2 separate regions of the Homo sapiens genome follow, and region 2 is linked to region 1. Evidence: fine-mapped expression QTL. A gene starts in region 1. The other region holds a variant in brackets. All regions are shown on one strand. Distances are between the middles of the regions. Region 1 holds the start of GJB2 (gap junction protein beta 2). Region 2 has its middle 11 kb from the start of GJA3.

Region 1 (5,000 bases):
AAGTTTACATTTGAGGCACCCCGAGTTAAAATTTTACAAAGGACCTTGCTTCCTCCTACGTGAAAGGAAGAGGTTAGGAATGCCCTCTTCATGGAGAAAAGCCACTGTGAGCACAGACTTTCGTGTAGGCTTTGTGGATGGCTTGGTGGCCTCACTGTCAGGCTGGCACTGATGGCTCAGTTAGCATATCTGTTTTGATAAGTGCTGCAACAGTGCATTATAATTGTGGGCTGTGGTTTTAATTTCAAAGTGTTTCTTAAAAGACACATTATTTTAAAATGACAGAAAATTCAACTCCCTCGGTTACTGGCCCAGCTAAGCGACGTCACTGCATTGCAGTTCAGCGCTGAAGCTTGGGAGAGTCCCACACTCCTTACTGCAAGCGGATGTGGAGAGGCCAGTGGATAATCTCCTGTGAGCCCATGGCCTTCTTTTCATCCCAGGATGTGAATTGTCTTCACTGATTCATAGTTACACCCTGCCTGCCACAACCAACGCTCTCCTAAACAAGATTCCACCCTCTCCACAATCCGGATGAATCATCTCTTTTCCACCCTTCAGAGCTGGTAGTGAATCCTCCTTCTTCTTTTTCTTAAAAGCATCCTCCTCTCCTCATTTTAGGCAAGTTGCATCCCGTTTTCTGATGGACTCCAGAAGCAGGCTCGTAGTGAATGTCTTTCATGACCCACAGTCGCTGCCACGGGGCACCAAGGTCAGGCAGAAACCATCCAGTGCCACCTTGGTCAGAGGCTAACAGGAGAGAGGTGGCCACGAAAGTTACATCAGATTGACATAGGCCTGTGAAACATTTAGCTTCACTGAGCTTGGGAAAGACAACATCATTGGAAAAAACAATATTTTAGCCCAGGTTCAGCACTGACCCATTGATAATCCAGACTGGGAGGCCCTTAGGTGAGCTGGTTGTCCTGCTACAGCACCCACAGCTCAGGCCAGTCCCGTCCCAACAGCAGAACCACCGAGGACAGCAACATTCCGATTTTAACAAAAGCATCTTATGGAATTAGACATTCTTCATTGGCCCTCACTGAGTGGAAAACAGGATACTCCCCGAAGTAAACTCTCTCCTGGTTTACAACAATACACCTGGCCAAGAATATGGGGCTGCAGGAGGAGGGGTTTATCCTTTGCCCTCTTCCACCTGCCAAACCCAGGTCATACACCCTTCTACAGACCTGTCCAGTTACCATCAGCTGAGAAAAATACAGTTCCGAGAAACCCTATATTGTTATTTTATAAAGCTTGAGTTGAAGCTACCTGTTTTAAAGATCCTTTTTCAGGAAGAGGAGTAAATTAAGATTTACTCCCCAATGGGCTAGGGGGTCATGGGTTAAGAGGGGCTCAGAAGCAGGACGAAGTTGTTTTCAATATTCAAGTCAGAGGAGGAGCTGCCCTCCTGGCCTCCCGACCCTGGGCGGTTACATGCAGCTTCCTACCGGGCCCACGCCATCCTGCACCGCCTGGAGGGCTGCCAGAGGCCAGCGGAGGAGTTGGTTCAGTTCCTTAGGGAAGACACTAGGTGAATCACCAGGATCCAGAAAAGGCAAAAGGGACTCTTCACCCCTTAAATTTCTCCACCCTTAGGTGATGGGTGGTCGACCTTGCCTGGCTGTCCCCAGAGGGTTCCTCCACCCTTCTCACCAGTGTCTGAAATTGTGACCGACTGTGCACAGCAGTTTCGAAAGGGACTCTAAGGTCACATGGGGACACGGCCGTACCACGCTTCTCAAGGCAGTCCCAGGTGCATGGCCACGGAACCCAGCTCTCAGCAGCTGTTAGTTAGGTGAGCGCTGTTCGGGCTGCCTTCCTCCTCCAGTGGGGCAGGATCGAGGCACTGATGGAACCGTCCTGAGGACGCGGGTCTCAGCCGCACACCACCTCTTCGCGAACAAGGGTCCTAAAAATTTTCCTTCTAGGCGGGGAGCACAGCCCGGAAACAGACCCTCGTGAAGTGTTTAGGAAAAAGGGAAGCCACTGAAATCTTGGCCCCGGGGTAGGCCGGGATCGGCTGGCTCCGCGTTAGTTCTAGGCAAACTCCGCCCAAATCTCTGCCCGGGGATTTTTCTGCAGAAGCCGCTCCAAGAGGTAAAGGTCAGTTCCTGCAGCGAAGGCTTCCTGCTTCACCGGCGAAACGGAGCTTTGCTTCGAAGCTAAGCTTTCGGTGAATTTAAAACGTTTGGTGGCAGTGGGTCAAGTAGCCAGGCGGCTGCGCTAGAGTACCCCGAAGGGACATCGGCGACACCACAAACCTCGCGCTGGCGGCTCGCCCGCGCCTTTTTCCCCTCCCGCGCGCGCCCGGCCCCACTCGCACCCCGGGCGGTGCCATCGCGTCCACTTCCCCGGCCGCCCCATTCCAGCTCCGGAGCTCGGCCGCAGAAACGCCCGCTCCAGAAGGCGGCCCCCGCCCCCCGGCCCAAGGACGTGTGTTGGTCCAGCCCCCCGGTTCCCCGAGACCCACGCGGCCGGGCAACCGCTCTGGGTCTCGCGGTCCCTCCCCGCGCCAGGTTCCTGGCCGGGCAGTCCGGGGCCGGCGGGCTCACCTGCGTCGGGAGGAAGCGCGGCGGGGCCGGGGCGGGGGTCTCGGCGTTGGGGTCTCTGCGCTGGGGCTCCTGCGCTCCTAGGCGGGTCCTGGGCCGGGCGCCGCCGAGGGGCTCCGAGTCGGGGAGAGGAGCGCGCGGGCGCTGCGGGGCCGCAACACCTGTCTCCCGCCGTGGCGCCTTTTAACCGCACCCCACACCCCGCCTCTTCCCTCGGAGACTGGGAAAGTTACGGAGGGGGCGGCGCCGCGGGCGGAGCGCGCCCGGCCTCTGGGTCCTCAGAGCTTCCCGGGTCCGCGAACCCCCGACCGCCCCCGAAAGCCCCGAACCCCCCAAGTCCCCTTCGAGGTCCCGATCTCCTAGTTCCTTTGAGCCCCCATGAGTTCCCCAAGTGCCCCCAGCGCCCTGAGTCTCCCCCGGTTACCCCGAGCGCCGCCTCCCCCAGCCCCTTGGCGGCCCGGGTGAAGCGGGGGCGGCTGAGAGTCGGGACCCCCCAGGAAGCGGCGCCCCAGACCCCGGCTCCGGCGCTGTGCCGTGGGCGGGGTTCAGGGATGGCTGTGGTCGTTGTCCTCTGTACTCCGCATAGTGCGAGAGGACTTGGCATTTATGAGCGCTTCTTTAATTTTTTATTGTTAGAGAAACAGGCATTCCTCCAAGGACTGAAGATCTGTTCGAGTCGCGGAGGCTGCGCGGGCCCGCGAGGCTCTCGCAGGGGGACCTAGGCTGGGTGGCGGGGCAGTGCCCTCTGGAATGGGGGTTAACGGTGGCCGAGGAGGGGGCGCCGCTGGTGCCGGCGAAGTCCCCGCTTCTTTCTCCCCTCAAAATCTCACCAATCCGAACGAACGCCTTCTCGAATTTCCGATTTTATTCAATTACTTTCAACAATGTGCCAAGGACTAAGGTTGGGGGCGGTGGGAGAGACAAGCCTCGTTTTTGCCATGGCCGGCAGGGGGGTCCCGCCATCTGCGGAGGGTGCCCCCCGCGGCCCCCGGCCCAGCCAACTTCCTCCTCTTTTCGCAACTGGGGAACTGCAAGGAGGTGACTCCTTTCGGGGTGAGGAGGCCCAGACTTTTCAGAAAGGAAAGAGGGCAGGTAAAACCTGCCAAGCCCCTTCCTGCTCGATGCACACAGCACGAAAGGGGGAAACTGATAGGATTCTGCGGAAGACCGCTGGGGGGCTGGCTCTGCACTGCACACCTGCTGGGGGCTTTCTGGATACCGTGAAACTTTGTCTCAGATTATGAGGTCTCAGTATTTGCATTTGGTTGGGGATTTTGATGTCTTGCGATACAAATGACAGAAGACAGATTTGCACAGCGCAAGCGGATGAGGGACTAAGATGTGCAGAGCAGGCTGGGTGGGGACTCCCGGGGAGGTCTCCCCCAACCCCCGCCCCACCTCGGGCACCCACTTCGCGATTTTTGCAGAGGGGAGCCAGGTCAGAGGTGCAGCCTGGTCCCCTCGCGCTCACGTTTTTACCCAGGTCAGTTCGAAGTTAAGTGGAAATGATGATTAATCCTGACAAGTCAGATCTGGCCTCAGAATGGATTTCCCGTGATTGCCACCATTATTAGCATTGACTTTTCCTTGAAAAATTGGCGCCCCGTGGCCATGGGCCGACCTAGGCAGTTTCTGCAGGGACGAGCGTGAGTTTTGTACCGCGGTTACCACCTACTTTCCAGCTCCAGGTCTTAGTCTAAGAGGGAGTGTCTGCTCATGAAGAGGCAAAGCCCCAGGAGCTGCGAAAAGCCTTGCATGGCCCATCTGAGAGATGTGCTGAGTCGGCTTGTTAAAAATGACAGGCAAAGCCTGTGGGGTGGGGCAGCTTTCTTGGCCTGAGCGCATCTTGGTTGAGCCAGAGGTGACTTGGGGTGGGGAGTGGGGCGCCGGTTGGTGGGTTCTCCCTTTAATTTCTCAAAGGCTGTGGTGTTTATGAGTCTGTTGGAATCCTGGTTGGGTTGGAATGAAGGAAGGTTCTAGAACCATTGTGGGAAGCTCGCTAGTAAAGATGGTTTGGAGATCGGAAGTTGACTGACTTTCCCCCATTGAAAAATGTCACCTGAGATTTTAGTGCCTGTATCACGATTATAGGCTCAACTTTCTTTTCCTTGTTTTCTTTGATTTAGTTCTCCTTATGTGCAAAATTACTGTGTGATGTTGGCTAGTCGTATTATCACAGCCACTCCGTGTTTTCAGGATTTGTAGCTGGAAGTCCTATAGCACTTAAGTCTTCACTTACAGATCAGCGCTTGCTTTTATTCTGTTTTGTGTGATTTCTGCTGTTTTCCTGTGAGTTGGTGTTTTCTTCCCAAGTAGGCTCAGGACTCCTCTAGGGCAGGACATTATATGCATGTACATAGTGTCCTCCAGTGTAGGGGAGGAGAAGGAGGAGAGGTGAGGTGGGAAAAGGGTGAGGGAAGGCTTGGATATTTGAAGTTATTTACA
Region 2 (5,000 bases), 21 kb before region 1:
AACCAGCTGTGTGTGTGTGTGTGTAAACACAGTCATATGTGTATGTATGTGTGTGTATATATTTGTGTGTGTCAAAAAGTTTAGGCTGGCTTTGTATGTCCACCAAAAGGACAACCATGACCTGTGGGCAGAAGTTCCTGGAGAACAGCTTTTGCTTAAACCCATTACATATACCCAACTAGAGTTGTCAAGAAGTGGCTTCAGGATGTGGTGGTTTCCAAAGGTAGTGGGTGGGATGTCTGTGGAGTGTGTCTCTGAGAAGGTGGCCAGGAAATGCATCTATGAGGTGATGGGAAGTAACTTCCTGGAAGGGAAGAAGAGTTCAGATTAAATTAAGGCTGGATGTTAGAAGTGTTAGATAAAACCCTTTGGAGGACCTGGTGGATGCTGGAAATTTGTTAAGCGAGCCATCCATGTAAAGTGCAGCAGGGAAGGGTGCGTCTTGGAGTCAGCTGGTGGGCGACACTGTGAGGCGACTAGCCCTGCGAACTCTTGGGAGGCTGGGACTGAAGAAGACTGAGGAGGAACAGATGTGCCCTGGGCTCCCTTCTCCAGCTCCTTAAAATACCTGTGTCCTACAGGGAGGACAGACGGAGAGATGGTGCCACAGAACCCAGGAACTGAGCCTGGGAGGCTTTGCTGCTTTTGGTGTTGGTTGAACAGGATTTGTTCATGGATTACTTTTTTTTTTTTTTTCCACGCAGGCTGGAGTGCAATGGTGCCAACACAGCTCACTGCAGTCTCAACCTCCGAGGCTCAAGTGATCCTCCTGCCCCAGCCTCTCAAGTAGCTGTGACCACAGGCGTGCACCACCACACCTGGCTAATTGTTAAATTTTTCATAGAAATGGGCATGTTGGCCAGGCTGGTCTTGAATTCTGGCCTCAAGTGATCCTCCTGCCTTGGCCTCCCAAAGTGCTGGGATTACAGGCGTGAGGCACCATGCCTAGCCATGGATTACCTTTTTGATTCCTCCTTTGCTCTTTTCTTTCTTGGCTTCTACTGGCTACATTTTCTTCTCACTTGTCTTTCCTATCCTTTCCTTTTAATTTCACTTTTGCCTAATGCAGTCATAAAGACATTTCTGTCAATGATGAACTGCATATCCAACGGTGGTACCATAAGATTATAATGCCATATTTTTACCATACCTTTGGTATGTTTAGATATGCAAATTCTTACCATTATGTTACAGTTGCCTTCAGTAATCAGTACAGTCACATGCTGTACAGGTTTGTGGCCTCGGAGCGATAGGCTACACCACACAGCTTAGGTGTGCAGTAGGCTATTCCATTGGTTTGTGTGGGTACACCCTATGATGTTCCCACAATAACAAAATTGGCTAATGACACAATTCTCAGAACGTACCTCTGTCATTAATCGAGTGACTGGGTATCATTTCTTCTTTCCCTCCCCTCAGTCCCCATCGCTGATGGCTCTTCTCCATCAGTAACCAGCCCCCACCACCACAGTGTCCTTTTTACTCTTCCTTCCTCCCCACCCTTACCCCTTGTGATGGGAGGAATGAGCAGAGATGGTGCAGGACCAGCCAGTTCCTGCCAGCAGACTCCCTGCCACCAGCAGCCGTTGCTAGATAAGTAGAATACACCTATTTCTTCAGGACAATTGAGAGAAAGTCTGAGTTTCCATCACTGGTCTGCCCTTATTAGCTCTCTGCCCTGGGGTAAGTGGCTTGCCCACACTGCCCCCGTTTCATGAGCTTATGTACATGGAGATTACGTAGGATTGTTACGAAGATGAATCAACATGACCCAGTGTATGAAGTAGCCTAAACCAGTGCTGGTGCATAGTTGGTGCTCAAAAAATGGCACCCGTTATTATTACTTAGAAACTTGTATAGCAGTTTGCCATTGCTGTGACATTTATATTGTAATTTACACAGGTTTTGATCCTCAAGAGATTAGGGAAAAAATCTTTCACTACTAATGTCATTATTTCCCCTTCTTTGCAAAAGCTACTTACTACGAATAGAAACATTTACATAACGAGTGAATTTCTCAAATGGTGCAAGAATCAACCGCAAAATAGGCCTCCTCTTTTGAGTTTGGGAGAGAATAAACAAACAGAAATGAAACAACCTGGTTCCTATGAAGCCTCTTCTTGCTTCTTTTTGCCTCCCTGCGGGCCCCTTTGTCAGCACAGGGCAGGTGCTGAAGAACTTGTGCTCATCTGGCCCAAGCGCCTCCTCCATGTTTTCATCCTTGACAAGCCCAGACCAGGAACTCAGTGTCCCCTCACAAGAGGACAAATTTAATTTCCTGCTTATCCAAGATTTGTTTTATTTGATATGTAGGGACAATGTGTTTATAAATGGTTAGCAGCTATTAAGAGTGTAGAAATGTGTCATTTTCTTAACAGATAGGATCACCAACCCTCTTGAAAAAAAGTTGACATCACTTTCTAATATGGCCCCTGTGTAATGTCCCCAAGGCACTGTGTGATGCCACAAAAGCAAAATAAAATATTTGAAGTGTGTAGATTTCAGTTTACAAAGGCCAGGCCTATTGTTTGCCAAGGAAAAGAAAGCAGGAACCACTGGGTTCTCCGACAGTACTTACTTGGCTTTCTTCCTCTAAAAGAATGAGGCATTA[T/C]TAATCCTTTTATTTCTACCAGAGAGCACAGAGCAGCTGAGTGATAGATGTTATCTAGCTTAAATATGCACTGGGTAAGCATCTGAGTGCAGGTAGCACTGTTCTAGGAATTATGGGGCTCCTGGGAAAGCGTAATGTGTTTAGTAGCTTATAATCCATCAATATGAGTTGATGTTGATAAGTTCATTAATATGATTGATGAACTTATAATTCATCAACCCATCAAATGGCTGACAAGCACATGAACTATGCCAAAGGCGCTGGGGTGTGATGGTGAGCTGAGTTGGGGGTCTATTCTCTCTCAACTTACAATCAACAAGATGAGCATTAAACAGGTAAATGCACAAGAAAACATGTACTGTGTTTCACTGCATCTAAAGTACGGTTGATCATAAGACATATCACCATGTATGTACCACTGAAGTAAAAGCCTGACTGTCATTGTTGGATGTCGCCAATTGTAAAGCACGGCTCTCTATTTCACAGGTGTTAGAATGGGAAAGAATTGTGTGTCTTAGAATCTGTGTGTGTAAGAATTAACTTATAAGTAAATTAATTACTAATCACGGTGAGTTCTTTATAGAAAAGATGTTACAAGAAAGCCCAACAGAGAGCCCTGCTTTAGGATGAGTGACATTTCAGCTGAGGCTTGAAGGGTAAGGACAGGGGAGAAGAGTTGGTGGGATGCTGTCTCCAATGGGTGGTGCAGGAGATAGGTGAACAGCGGCGCAGGGGAGGGAGATCAATATGGTGGGGATAGTCAGGGAAATATTGGAGGTGGGAATTGAGCTGCATTTTGAATGATTTGAGGTGGAAAAGGAAGGCCCAAACAAGGGACATAACACTAGCTAAGGCCAAAAGCAAAAGATAATGGGTGAAAAATCCATTTTATAATTCAAGTGGAATCCCAAGAGACTCCAAATAGCCAAAACAGTCTTGAAAAGGAGGAACAAAATTAAAGACTCACTCTTCCTGATTTCAAAACATACTACAAAGTGATAGTAATCAACACAGTTTAGTACTGGCATAAAGACAGACATATAGACCAATGGAATACAACACAGAGGCCAGAAATAAACACTTACATGTATGGTCATCTTCCACAAGGGTGCCAAGACCATTCAATGAGGAAAGGACAGTTTTTCAGCATATAGTGGGGGAAGCTGGATATCCACATGCAAAACAATCAAGTTGGACCCTAATCTTCCACCATATACAAAAATAAACTCAAAATGAGTAAAAAACCTCAATGTTAGACCCAAAATAATTCAACTTGTGGAAGAAAACAAAGGGCAAAACTTCACAAACTTGGATTTGGCAAATGATTTCCTGGTTATGGCACCAAAGCCACAGGCAATAAAAGAAAAAATAGACAAATGGATTTTATGAAAATCAAAAACTTTTATGCTTCAAAGGACACTAAAGAGAGTGAGAAAGCAATCCACAGAATGGGAGAAAATATTTGCAAATCACATATCTGATAAGGAATTAATATCTGGAATATATAGCGAACTGCTAAAACTGAACAATAACAGTATCAACAGAAAACAAGCTGATTCAAAAGTGGGCAAAAGACTTCAGTAGACATTTCTCCAAAGATAGACAAATGACTCATAGGCACATGAAGAAATGCCCAATATCACTAATCCTTTGGGAAATGCAAATCAAAACCGCTATGACAGCCCACCTTACACCCATCAAGATGGCTATTATCAAATAAACCAAAAATAACAAGTGCTGATGAGGATGTAGAGAAACTGGAGGCTTTGTGTACTGTTAGTGGAAATGTAAAATGGTATAGTTGCAGTGGAGTACTGTATGGTCCTAGCACTTTCTGGGAAGATGAGTTAATTCTCTCTTCATTTCAGGGCCCATGTGCGTGGGTGGTGGGCTGGGAAACTTCTGTTGCTTCTGGGCTTCCTCCCCCATGGCTGCCGCGAGTCTCAACACTCACTTGCACCCTGGCTCCCGCCTGGCATCCTCAGCCTGCCCTGCTGCCTGCTCAGCGAATTCTACTCGTCCTCACCCAGTGTCCCTCAAGGCTTCCTTCAAATGTCCTCTCCACCAAGGAGCTTTCCCCGCCACCTGAGGCAGAGGAAACCACTCCTTTCTTGATTCTGCAGATGCAGATTCAACAGACACCTGGCACTGATGGGCACCGAGATGTCCTGTGTGTTCATGGAGTTTATGTTGGGGTTTGGTTGGGGGCACCCCCGAGCTCCCCTCCACAGTTCAGAATGAAACAAGAAATAAGACAGGACAGGCAGATAAAAATGTCAGCTTCAAAAGCCAGGATAAAGTGACTTGATACCCCTTTCTAAACTAGACAGAATCAACTACCTGCTCACAGCTGCTGGCCTCTTTCTTGGTGGCACAACCTGCCCCAGGC

Evidence for each region.
Region 2: its variant is fine-mapped to the expression of GJB2 in nasal epithelium (TOPMed, PIP 0.98).

Annotation. Positions count from the first base shown.
Region 1 is chr13:20,190,225-20,195,224 of GRCh38, forward strand. GJB2 (gap junction protein beta 2) reads right to left here and starts at 2,714. Exons shown (of 2, transcript NM_004004.6): 1 at 2,559-2,714.
Region 2 is chr13:20,169,061-20,174,060 of GRCh38, forward strand. No RefSeq gene overlaps it. Among named protein-coding and RNA genes, the nearest start is that of GJA3, 11 kb to the left of the region's middle. The variant T/C (reference allele first, on the strand shown) is at 2,612.